Regions from separate parts of the Homo sapiens genome. Here region 2 is linked to region 1. Evidence: fine-mapped expression QTL. Tissue or cell type: testis. Region 1 holds a variant in brackets; the other region holds the start of a gene. All regions are shown on one strand. Distances are between the middles of the regions.

Evidence for each region. PIP is the estimated chance that this variant, and not a neighbour inherited with it, causes the effect.
Region 2: PRMT8 starts here. The variant in region 1 is fine-mapped to the expression of PRMT8 in testis (GTEx, PIP above 0.99).

Annotation. Positions count from the first base shown.
Region 1 is chr12:3,569,134-3,574,335 of GRCh38, reverse strand. PRMT8 (protein arginine methyltransferase 8) reads right to left here. Exons shown (of 10, transcript NM_019854.5): 6 at 4,772-4,859. Among named protein-coding and RNA genes, the nearest start is that of THCAT155, 79 kb to the right of the region's middle. The variant A/C (reference allele first, on the strand shown) is at 2,423.
Region 2 is chr12:3,488,561-3,493,670 of GRCh38, reverse strand. PRMT8 (protein arginine methyltransferase 8) reads right to left here and starts at 2,468. Exons shown (of 10, transcript NM_019854.5): 1 at 1,971-2,468. The coding sequence starts at 2,045. THCAT155 (thyroid cancer-associated transcript 155) reads left to right here and starts at 852. Exons shown (of 2, transcript NR_126055.1): 1 at 852-939; 2 at 4,069-5,110.

The DNA of each region.
Region 1 (5,202 bases):
TCCAACCATTTGGAAACCTTTGGGGTACATGATCTTTACTGTCTTCAAGTCCCAAAAATGGTGATCTTAATGTCTCATGGCCTTTGTGAGACCTTCTCTAAACGCTCCTGACCATATAACCTCTCCTGTACCCTCAACACCCATAGTACAGCATTTAGCACAGAATAGGCTCACAGATAATGTTTTTTGAATTGAGATTCATTCCCAAACATTTAATGCCTGCACTGTTTTGCAATGCCTGGTGTTTTAGTTACCTTTATATGGGTTAATTTGGGTCTTATCTCCTCAGCTGGACTGCCCCACCTTCAATCATTCAGAGCACAGATCACCCAAGGGATTAGATTTTTTTTTCTTCTTTCTGCTGGCCATTTATTTCCCAGTAGCCCTTTTTATCAGAAGTGGAGCAGAGATGGAGTAGGATACAAATAAATCACATTAATTATTTGTTGCAATAATTATTTGTATGCTGTATGCCAAATAAGTGTATGTGGGGTAAGAGCCATTGGTCATCAAGAAATATCATGATTATCTAGAAATTAAAAAATAATATCAGAGAGGCCTGTGAAGCTTTTGTTAATGGATGAAAACAGACTCCTAAAAAGGACTATACTATGGCATAATGTATGTAATTAAAGCAACAACAAAGCCCAAATCTACTATTAATACAGACTAGATTGACTCACACACACCCTCATTCTAATAGCCTGGCAGAGGCAATGCTCTTTTCTGGACATAGGTGTGATTCACCTGTCTCTACTGGTCCTTTTACTCACAATGCCCAGCATTAATGAAAAATTATAAGACACATGAGAAAGGGAAAAATATGACTTATCATCATAAGAAAAAAGTCATAGAACCAAATTTAGAGATGCTCAGATGTTAGAATTATCCAACAAGACTTTAAAGTATCTATACTAAGTATGTTAAAGAAGCTAGTGGAAAAGGTGGACAGTGTGCATCAATGAATGGAGAATTTCATTAGCGAGATGGAAACTTTTTAAAAAAGCCAGTGGAAATGTTAGAAATCGAAATAACAATATAAGGAAAGAAGACTTTTTAAAATGAACTTATTAACAGAATGAATATATCAGGGAATAACCAATAAAGTTGAAAACGGGGCAATAAAAATGATCCAAACTTAAACACAAAGAGAAAAAAGGGGTGAAAAAAATAGAGGATCCAAGCTCCATAGGACAATATCAAACATTATTTCATATAATGGGAGTTCCTGAAGAAGGGGAGAAAGATAATCAGGCAGAAAAAAATATTTGTAGAGATACTGGCTGAAATTTTTCTAAACTAACGAAACAATCCATCCACAGTTCCAAGAATTCCATGTAACCCCAAGCAGGATAAATAAAAAGAAAAACACACCTAGACACATCAGAATCAAACTGCAGAAAATCAATAAAGACAGAAATCTCAAAAACAGTCTGAGGAAAGAAAATTAAGTACCAGGGGAGAAATGTGATTTCTGATTGCAGAGAGCTGTAGCTACATCCTCCCTCACCACCCCAGCCCCAACCATCTGAGTTTCTCTGATGAGGCTAATGGGACTGCCTCAGAATGAGGTCAGAGAAAAATAGAACAAGTGCCACCAGATGCTACTTACAGATTCTCCTCTGTGCAGAAGGGAAAGTGTTTACACTAGATTGACACATTTTAGGCTCTCATGAAGAAAGTGGAATCCTTGCATAAAATGGGCTGGAACCAGAGGAAACTCTGGATGTCATGAGTGGAAGTGAAGCCCACAGACAGCAGCTGAGCCATCCAAGAGGGCCGCCCTTCAACCATCAAGCTATAAGCACTGCCACCTCTGCATGAGGTCTTTCTTTCAGTCTTCTCATCAGCCAAGAAACTGGTGCCCATCTCTCTCATTCTCAGCAGGGTGTAGATTCATGCACTGGGTACAATTCATGGGTTGTGCATGAAATTGAATAGAACATCCACCGAGTTTCCTTCCATTTTTGAAATTCTGTGTATTTCCTTTATAGTAGAAAATGTGTGTAAAATGATTGCTCCTCTCTAAGAGTTAAATACTACACCTTGCACATCCCTCTGCTGGTTCACTTTCCTTCCTTCCTTCCTTCCTTCGTTAAAATTATGTATTGTGAGCCTAGTATATGCCAGATATTTATCTCTGTCTCTATGTGGTCTCTATTCATTGGTGAGCAAATGGAGGGCAGGTTCTGCACTGACCTCATTCTTGCACTCCCATGTTGCTGTGTGTGGTTGAGAAAGAAGAAGAAAGGAGGGGAGGGAAGGGAAGGAGAGGGAAGGAAATAAAAGAAAAGGAAAGGAGAGGAAAGGAAAGAAAGCTCTCCCTCTAACAACTTACTTTCTGAAAGGGGCTGAACATGTCTCACTCTCCTGCCTCATTTCAAAATTTTTCCTTCTTAGCTGGTTCTTGAGCCAATAGAAA[A/C]TTGCTTACAATTGTTGCCTTAGCAACCAGCAACCTTTGTGCTTTACTTCTGATTTAGAACTCATAGTAACCAAAGTCTCCATTTATTTGAAATGAATTTCTAAGTGGGTTTGCTTCCTTTACAAAAAAATAGATTATTTTCAAAAATGTAAATAGAAAATGTATTTTAAATACATTTTAAGTGTCTGTTTCTTGGTGTTCTTTTGGGGTGGGGAGGAGGTTGGGGTATTTTTCAGAGACTCTAGAACAAGCACAAGATAACATGGTGCTAACTTTCAGATTTTTTTTTTTCCTTTTCCAAAAGGTATGAACACTGCAATGAGAATCAAAGAAATCACATGATCTCCAGTCTGGGGCCAGTGCCTTAGGAGCCCCTCCCTGCCCCAGGCTGGCTCATTGCAATGTGCATACCTGCAAAGGCTCCTGACACAGGTATCTTTGTTGTGGAAACCATGAGAAAGTTTCTTAAAGAGGTGTGCCTCGGGTTGGAGCTCAATAAATATCTAAGTGAACTTGACAATGAAGAATGTACCTAGAAGCTTTCCTCCTCAAAACACTATTCAGTACAATTGCACAGCAAGAACTCCAAAATGCAGCTCCAGGGCAAAATATGTCCTATTTATACATGCATTTGATCAACACTCACTGTGGAGTTGTGTCTGCAATCTTCCATGAGAGTACATCTGTCCTAGATTCTGAGCCACCAGGGGCTTGGCAGTCAGGCTCACTTGCCAGAGCCAGGGGCAGAAAGGGGCTTAGCTACACAGTCAGAAACTAGTTCCCATCTAGTCCCATTATAGGACCAAGAACTGTCACGTCCTTTAATATATGTCATCTCACTTAATCCTCATGACAAGTCTGTGGGATTGAGAAAATTATCCCTTAACTGAGGCCCAAAGGTATTAGATAATTTGCTCAAGGTTACCCAGTTAGGACATGGCAAAGCCAAGATTTAAACCCAGGGCTGGCAGTGTGCAAAGCATTTAACCTGGGCCCCCCTGCCTCTCACTGTCCTCATTTGGTATTTTGCCTCCTTCCCCCAGGAGGTCAAATAGTGGAAATCACACCAGATTGGCTGGAGGCAGACAGCAACCAGAGACGGTTTCCAGGGCACAGAGCTTCAAACAGCTGTCCCACTTTTGTCTTCTTCTGAACCTGGCTCTGAACTTCACACTTTGAGTTTATATTTCCAGAAAGGCATGAACCCACACAAATACACACATCCATAGCAGAGTCCAGCCGAGTTTTCATCAGTGCCACTAACGACGATTAGATGGCAATTGTTTAAATCCACAGAGCCACAATTTGTTGAACTGTGGATGGAGTCTTAGCCTCTTGGAGGCATTTATTCTTCTACTCAATCTGTGAACCCCTCCACAGTAATCTTGCCAAGTAGGAATGGACCACCCTGTTGGGGCAGGAACCGCAGATGTGCCCAGTCTGATGGATAGGTTGGAGCTTCTGCCTCTTGCTTTAATTTGGATTTTTGGGTGTTTGCCTGTTTGAGGGGTTCTTTGCTCCTTTGTTGTATTTGGTTCTGGTTGAGGAGACACAGCCATGTTCAACTTTACAAAAACATGTTTGGTATAATCTCATTAAGGATCAGGCCTGTGTCACAGAGAAGTGTCACCCTTTACGAGAAATAGGATAACAGCCCTTTTCAGACCAGGTAAAACATTGCGGGGGAGGAGAAGTTTTTTGGCTTTATTGTTCTCAGAGAACCACACACGCCTAGCTGATAAGGCATTAAGAATACATGTTTAGATACGAGCCCCTGCCTCATGCACACATGCACACTCGCCTTTCGTTTGATTGTTCAAAGCAAAATCTCCACTCTTTCCCACCCCCTCTGCTATCTATTCCTCAAAAGAACCTCAAATAATATGTATTTGCATAAGAGAATCAATATTATTTTGATAAGTTTGAATGGAATGGAGGCAGGATTCAAAACAATTGGCCTGGCAAGAGACCTGCTACTTCAGACCCCTGCGGTGGACTTTTGGGCTAACTGAACCTTGACAGGTTTCAAGCCACTTGCCCTGCTGATCTCTGCAAAAACTCAGCTTCTGCTGCCTCAGTCCAATTTTTAATTCACATTGCATTCATTCTTTCACCCCAGGACATTTCTCTCATCCCAGCCATATGGCTTATTTTCTGTCTGTAGACCTAACACCCTTGGGACTAGATAGAAACATTTAGAGAGCAGACTCCAGAAAGGGTCCCAGATAAGCTCCTCTTCAGGGACAGCAATGGTGTTCATGTCACTGCCTGCTCATCTCGGGCCCACTGGAGTGCCTCCCACCCCAATTGTGCAGTGGAAGTCCACCGGAGAAGCAAGAGGGGACTTACAGTGGATTTTGAAGTCCTTGTACTGTCTGTCTTCAATCGCTACCACGTACAAAGCTGCCCGGTCTGGAAACATAAGCCCTCCAGGTTTCTGTTGATGAATTGTGGGGAAATGGGTCTCGTAATCTATTCACCTGACAAAGACATCACATTTTGAACTGCACATAGAGTCACCAGACAAGCACCCCCTTGCCACCATCTCTCATGCAGTGGACTGTCACCTTGTCTGGGGTGAGGGCTAGGACAGCAGTGCTCAATTTTTATTTTGGAGCAAGGAAAATTTAAGGGACCTAGGTGGAGTCAATAGGACAAATGAGGTGAGGTGAAGGTAAATCCAGTGAGGAGCAGTGAGAGATGTTACGACTTTGGCCTGGAGAAGCCCAGATGAATAGCACACCTGGCTCTGGCAGCCATGCAAGTCCTAAGTACTTGCT
Region 2 (5,110 bases), 81 kb after region 1:
AGACTGGCGCGCGGCGCTCTGCCTGCTCCGGACGCCTTTAACCCTCGCCGAGGCTGGGAGAGCGCAGCAGCCGCCGCTGCACACTGCGGAACCTGGCAGGGGTCTGCACCCAGACCCCGCGCGGCAGCGGGGGTAGGAGGCAAAGGGAACCGCAAAAACTTTTTCTTAGAAAAATGAGCCGGGGGTGGGGTGAGGTGGAAATGCAGGGAGGAAGCGCCTTCTCGCTTCCAGGGCTCCAGCCACCTGGCAGAGACCGCTACGTGCCCGCTCGCTCCACACTTCACAGAAGCGCGGCCTTGAAGCCCTGGGCTATTTTTAGAAACCCTTTCGGCGGGTGGGCGATCAGAGGGCGGAGGGTGAGGGGAATGGTAAGGATGGCTTTCTGCTGGGAGGCTAGCCGCCTCGCACTACACATCATTCCGAATGTCTGCTCTCAGGTGGGGGCTGGGGAAGAGGAAGTGGTGAGGGGACGGCGGGCACGCAGGCTTTGCCCTAACTCAAGGAGACAGCATTCGCTACTGAATGCCCCGCTGCGTTCAAGTCCCGGAGCGTGTTTGTTTTGAAATTGACAATTGTCAGATGCATGCTGCTTCTAGTCTCTCAGAGAAGGGGGATTTATAAAGCTTTGCTGCCTACGCCGTGGGGTAGGGGTTTTAGCGCAGAGTTAAGAACTCGAGGGAAGAAGACCAGGAAGGGTCTCTCTACCTTTTTGCATTCCGGCAAGACAGAGGGACAATCCCCGCGCCACACCCCCATCCCCGCCCCCCGCTGCATATGGGTAACCATATGTGAAATGTGCGGCAGCCCCACCAGACACCCAGCTATTAATAGAGCCTGGGAGTTTGCTCTCTGTGTCTTTTTCCTGCCACTGAGTAAGGGATGATCTTCACACACATGCCCCACTCCGCCCCCATCTCGGCGCACCGTTTCTCCAGGAAGGTAAGGGGGCTGCCCACGCTGATCCCCTTCGTGACTACAGGTGCCCAGAGCCTACGGAATAGTCCGGTTGTTGTAATGACAGCGGGGTCAGAGGGAGGCGAGGGATCACAGCCTCGAGTCTCGGGACGCAAAGCCCAGCAGGGCTCTCTGCGGCTCAGGGCCAGCTGGAGAGTAGAGAAAAAGGCTGCCGAAGGCGGGGGCCGAGAACACAATTTGCGGAGCTAGAGCGACCTCCTCAAAAGCCCTTGCGGGACGGGTGGCTGCAGACCCATTTCTCACTGCAGCCGGCGGCGCGCAGCCCCCACAGTCCGCGCAGGCTCGGCTGCTGCAGGGGCGGACGCTGTCCCTGGTGCTGAAGGTGGCCGCGGCCCGTGTGCCCTGCCGGGTTTAGCTACCCAGAGGCGGCTCTGATATCTGAGGATTGCAGACTTCTCTCTGGCCCAGATCTGGGCCGGAGGGTCTGTAGGAGGTGCCCGAGTCCTCCTGCCGGCTCGGCCCCCGCGGCCGGGGGCTCTCCGCGCGGCTGCGGGGACGGAGAGCTCGGGAACCGACTCGAGCTTGAAGGGTAAAGCTGAGGCAGCGGCAGGAGACGGTCAAGGCACTGCAGGGGGCAGACCTGGCCCCAGGATTACCCACCCCAGCTCTGCACAAAGCCGGGACCCGGGAGCCCTCACGGAGCCCAGAGGAGAGGGCAGGGGAGCGCGGCTGCCCGGGGTTTGGGACTTGGGGGCGGGAGAAGGGAGCAGCGGGTGGCAGGAGAGGGTGATGGGGTGAGAGTGACTGTTTTGCATTTTCAAGAGGGAGGGGACCTGAGACATGAACTTCCCCCCCACCCCCCACCAACACACACACACACACACACACACACACACACACACACACACACACACACACACACAGGAGGAGGCCGGCAGAAGCGAGCGGGATGAAACTGGGGAAAGTTTGGCACTCGGCGCTGAGCGGCGGCGGCGGCGCGGTGGTCCGGGTGGGCGGCGGGGTCTCCGAGAGCCCCTGCTCGCTCGCCTCCTTACCTCGGTGCTCTCGGCCGCGTTCTCCGCCATTTTCCTCCTCAGGAGCAGGCAGCGGGAGGAGTGTTTCATGCCCATAAGAGCCGGCAAGGGTTTGGTGATACCGAGATAGTAGAGGAGGAGAGAGAGCTGGTGTCGCTTTAAAAGAGAGAGCGAGAGGATGGGAGAAAAAAAAAAATCCAACCCAGCCCCTCAGCTGGAGCGTCGGCCGGCACAGTCAGCCACAGCGGAGTCTGTTCTGCAGTCTCCACTTTCTTTTATTTTCCTCCCTTCTCATCTGCTCCGGATTCCTTCACACGGTTTCAAGTTCTTCTCGTGCCCCCGACCCCCTCCCCGCCCCTCTCCACCCGCGCTGCGGGCTAAGCTCGAGGGAAGCAGCCCCGAAGCCTCCGCGGCGGCGGCGGCGGCGGTCGCGGATCCTCTCCAGGCTGCTCGCAAAGTCCGGCCGGCCGGAGGCAGCCGCCAACTCCTCTCAACTTCTGCCGATCCGCTGGGCGAAGCAACACGCTTCCTGCGCGTCTCTCCTAGGGGCTGAGCCGGGTGAGTGGGGGCGGGGTAGGAGGTTCGCTGGAGCCGGCGGCGGCTGGGCGCAGACCGAGGGCCCCCAGCGCCCCCGGGCCCGCCCCCTCCCCTAGTCTCCGAGGGTCTCGGCCGCCTCCACTCCCTGGCGCTGCACACAACTTACGTGGAGGCCAGGCCCGCGCGGGGGGCCCAGAGAAAGCCGGCGCCGGGCGAGGCTCTTGCAGGTTCTCAGACCCGGTGCGCGTGCTCCCACCTAGGGCGAGGTCCGGGCGAGACCGGGCCACAGTTAACTCGCACCCTCCCCACCCCGGCCCACCCCAGCTCTCCCGCTCCTCTGCCAGTTCCTGGATCCTTCCTCGGCGAATTACGATTTGGGGAACGAAGGGGTGGGTGTCTGGATGGGGGAGGGTCCTTAACTCCTTCAACTCTAGGGGTAAGTGTGGTGTCATTCTTTATCCTTTTCTCTCTCTCTCTCTCTCTCTCTCTCTCTCTCTCTCTCTCTCTCTTTGTACCCAAAGCCCTTGGGACTCCAAGCCCCTTTCAGGCTGAGAGGGAGGGGCAAAGGTGGCGGCCAGAGTGGCTTGGGAAAGAGGGTGGGAGAAAGTCAAATGCGAGACTGCAGTGCCCCCCCCCCCACTCCAGTCTTCCCTGGCAGCCCCCTGCCCACGCATTTCTCTTCTCCCTCCTCACCCTTCCCCCACCATCGCCAGATTTTGAAGTCCCTTTTATGGGAGAGAGGGAGGATGTCACGTACCCGTCAGGATTCTCTTGATCCTTTTTTAAGGGAGTTTGGGCGGCAGCAGGGGGTGTGAATTTTTATACAATGCATTCCTGTCTTCACTTTGAGAGCTTCTTTTTCTCTGTTTTACTGGCCATCTGTCGGGCAGTGGGAGATAGAACAAAAGCGGGGGACCCCATTCTGCCTCTCCCTTTGCAACAGGACACTCAGGCTGACTCCTTAAAACAGCTGTACTTTTAAGCTTTCAACCTACGAGTCAAGGACTGAGACCTATAAGATGCTCCCTGAGCACCCGGCTGTCTTCACTTCATCTCTGTACTTGTTTGGGGAGGTCCCTCCCAAATGCCCTATTTGCTTTTTATCATCACCTTCGATAACTGGGAAGTGTGAGCCTGACTGTCCTCAACTAACCCCAGAGTCCATTGAAGAAAAGGTCTAGAATCATTCTCAGTAGGAAACATGCCTCCATCATCTGGTCCTCGGGCAAAGAGAGGATACATTGCACTAAGTAGAGGTGAGAAGTGAGGGATAGAGACAGGAGAGGATGAAGAATGAGAAGGATGAAAATGTAGCAAGAGGCTTGAGTGTGTGTGTGTGTGTGTGCGCGCGTGTGTGTGTGTGTGTGTGTGTGTGTGAAAACTTGAATAAAAAGATGACCTTAACCTCCTTAACCTTTTCCCTTCTCAGAACACAGACCTGGGTTAGAGTTGGGGGTGAGTGAGCAGAATCCTTGACAACACCCAGTCGTTCCTCCCGTTCTGTCAACATGCAGAAAGTGGTAGGAAAATAAATGTGAATCTGGAGAATGACTTTTATCCTATTGAATTCCCTTTTCTCTAGGCATCTTCTCAGAGACAAAAGATTCTGAGAGACATCTAATTCCCTACCAAAAGTGTCTCAGTGTTTGTGCAATCAAAGGAAATCAGAAAAGAAATGATCCTCACCGCTCTGTGGTCCAATCCTCTCATTTTACAAATAAGGACCCCAAGATTGGAGAGAGGAGGACATTTGCCCATGGTCCATCAGCAAGCAGAGGACCCAGCTCCCCAGCCTCCTGACTTTCAGTCCGACACTCTGCCCCCACCCAACACTGCTTCTGCTTGTGCATGCCTTCTGTGACTAACCAGGGAGGAGGGGAGCTGAAACAAGCTCCCACCGAAATAGGCTGCTGCCTGTGCGTGATTATGTTGCTATGAGAACCTCAGTGGGTGTGTTTCCTCCTTTCGCTGTTGAAATCTTTTGCTTTGCTTGGCTTCTCCCCAAGCACAGACACGTCTCCCTTTGGAATGGGGAGTGGAGAGGCTGAGATGGAGAGCTATATTTTCATGGCAAGAGTTTTCTGTCCCAACCCATCCAACCCAGAGCCAGCCTGGGGCTGTGAGTGAGGAGCCTATGCCACTAGGGTGGTTCCATAAAGGCTGGAGTACAGGAGTGAACTGTTTTGAAAGTGGATACTCTAGCCCCCTGTTGAGCTGTCTTAGAACAAAGAGGTGCTGTTCCTGCTATGTAACCACCTAAGAACAAATTCACAAGCAAGCTAATTATTACTTTAAGAGACGAAGTTTGGGGTGATTTGTTATACACCAAGAGATGACCTGAACATTCACATCTTATGATTGTGAAAAGTGCCTAGCACATAGTAGGTACTTTGTAGAACTATTTTCTCAGCATCCCTACCATTCCTGTGAATTCAGTCTTTCTCTATCTCTTTTGCAAAAATATATTAGCATAGTCTTTCACCAGGTTAATTAGTTTAGTCATCCCACAAATAATTTACTAGGCATCTCTTAAATGCCCAGCTCATTAATAGGCACTAGCCTTAACAAGAGGCAACAAAACATATTGAATTGACCATTGATGAGCTCTTAATGTAGTCATGTTG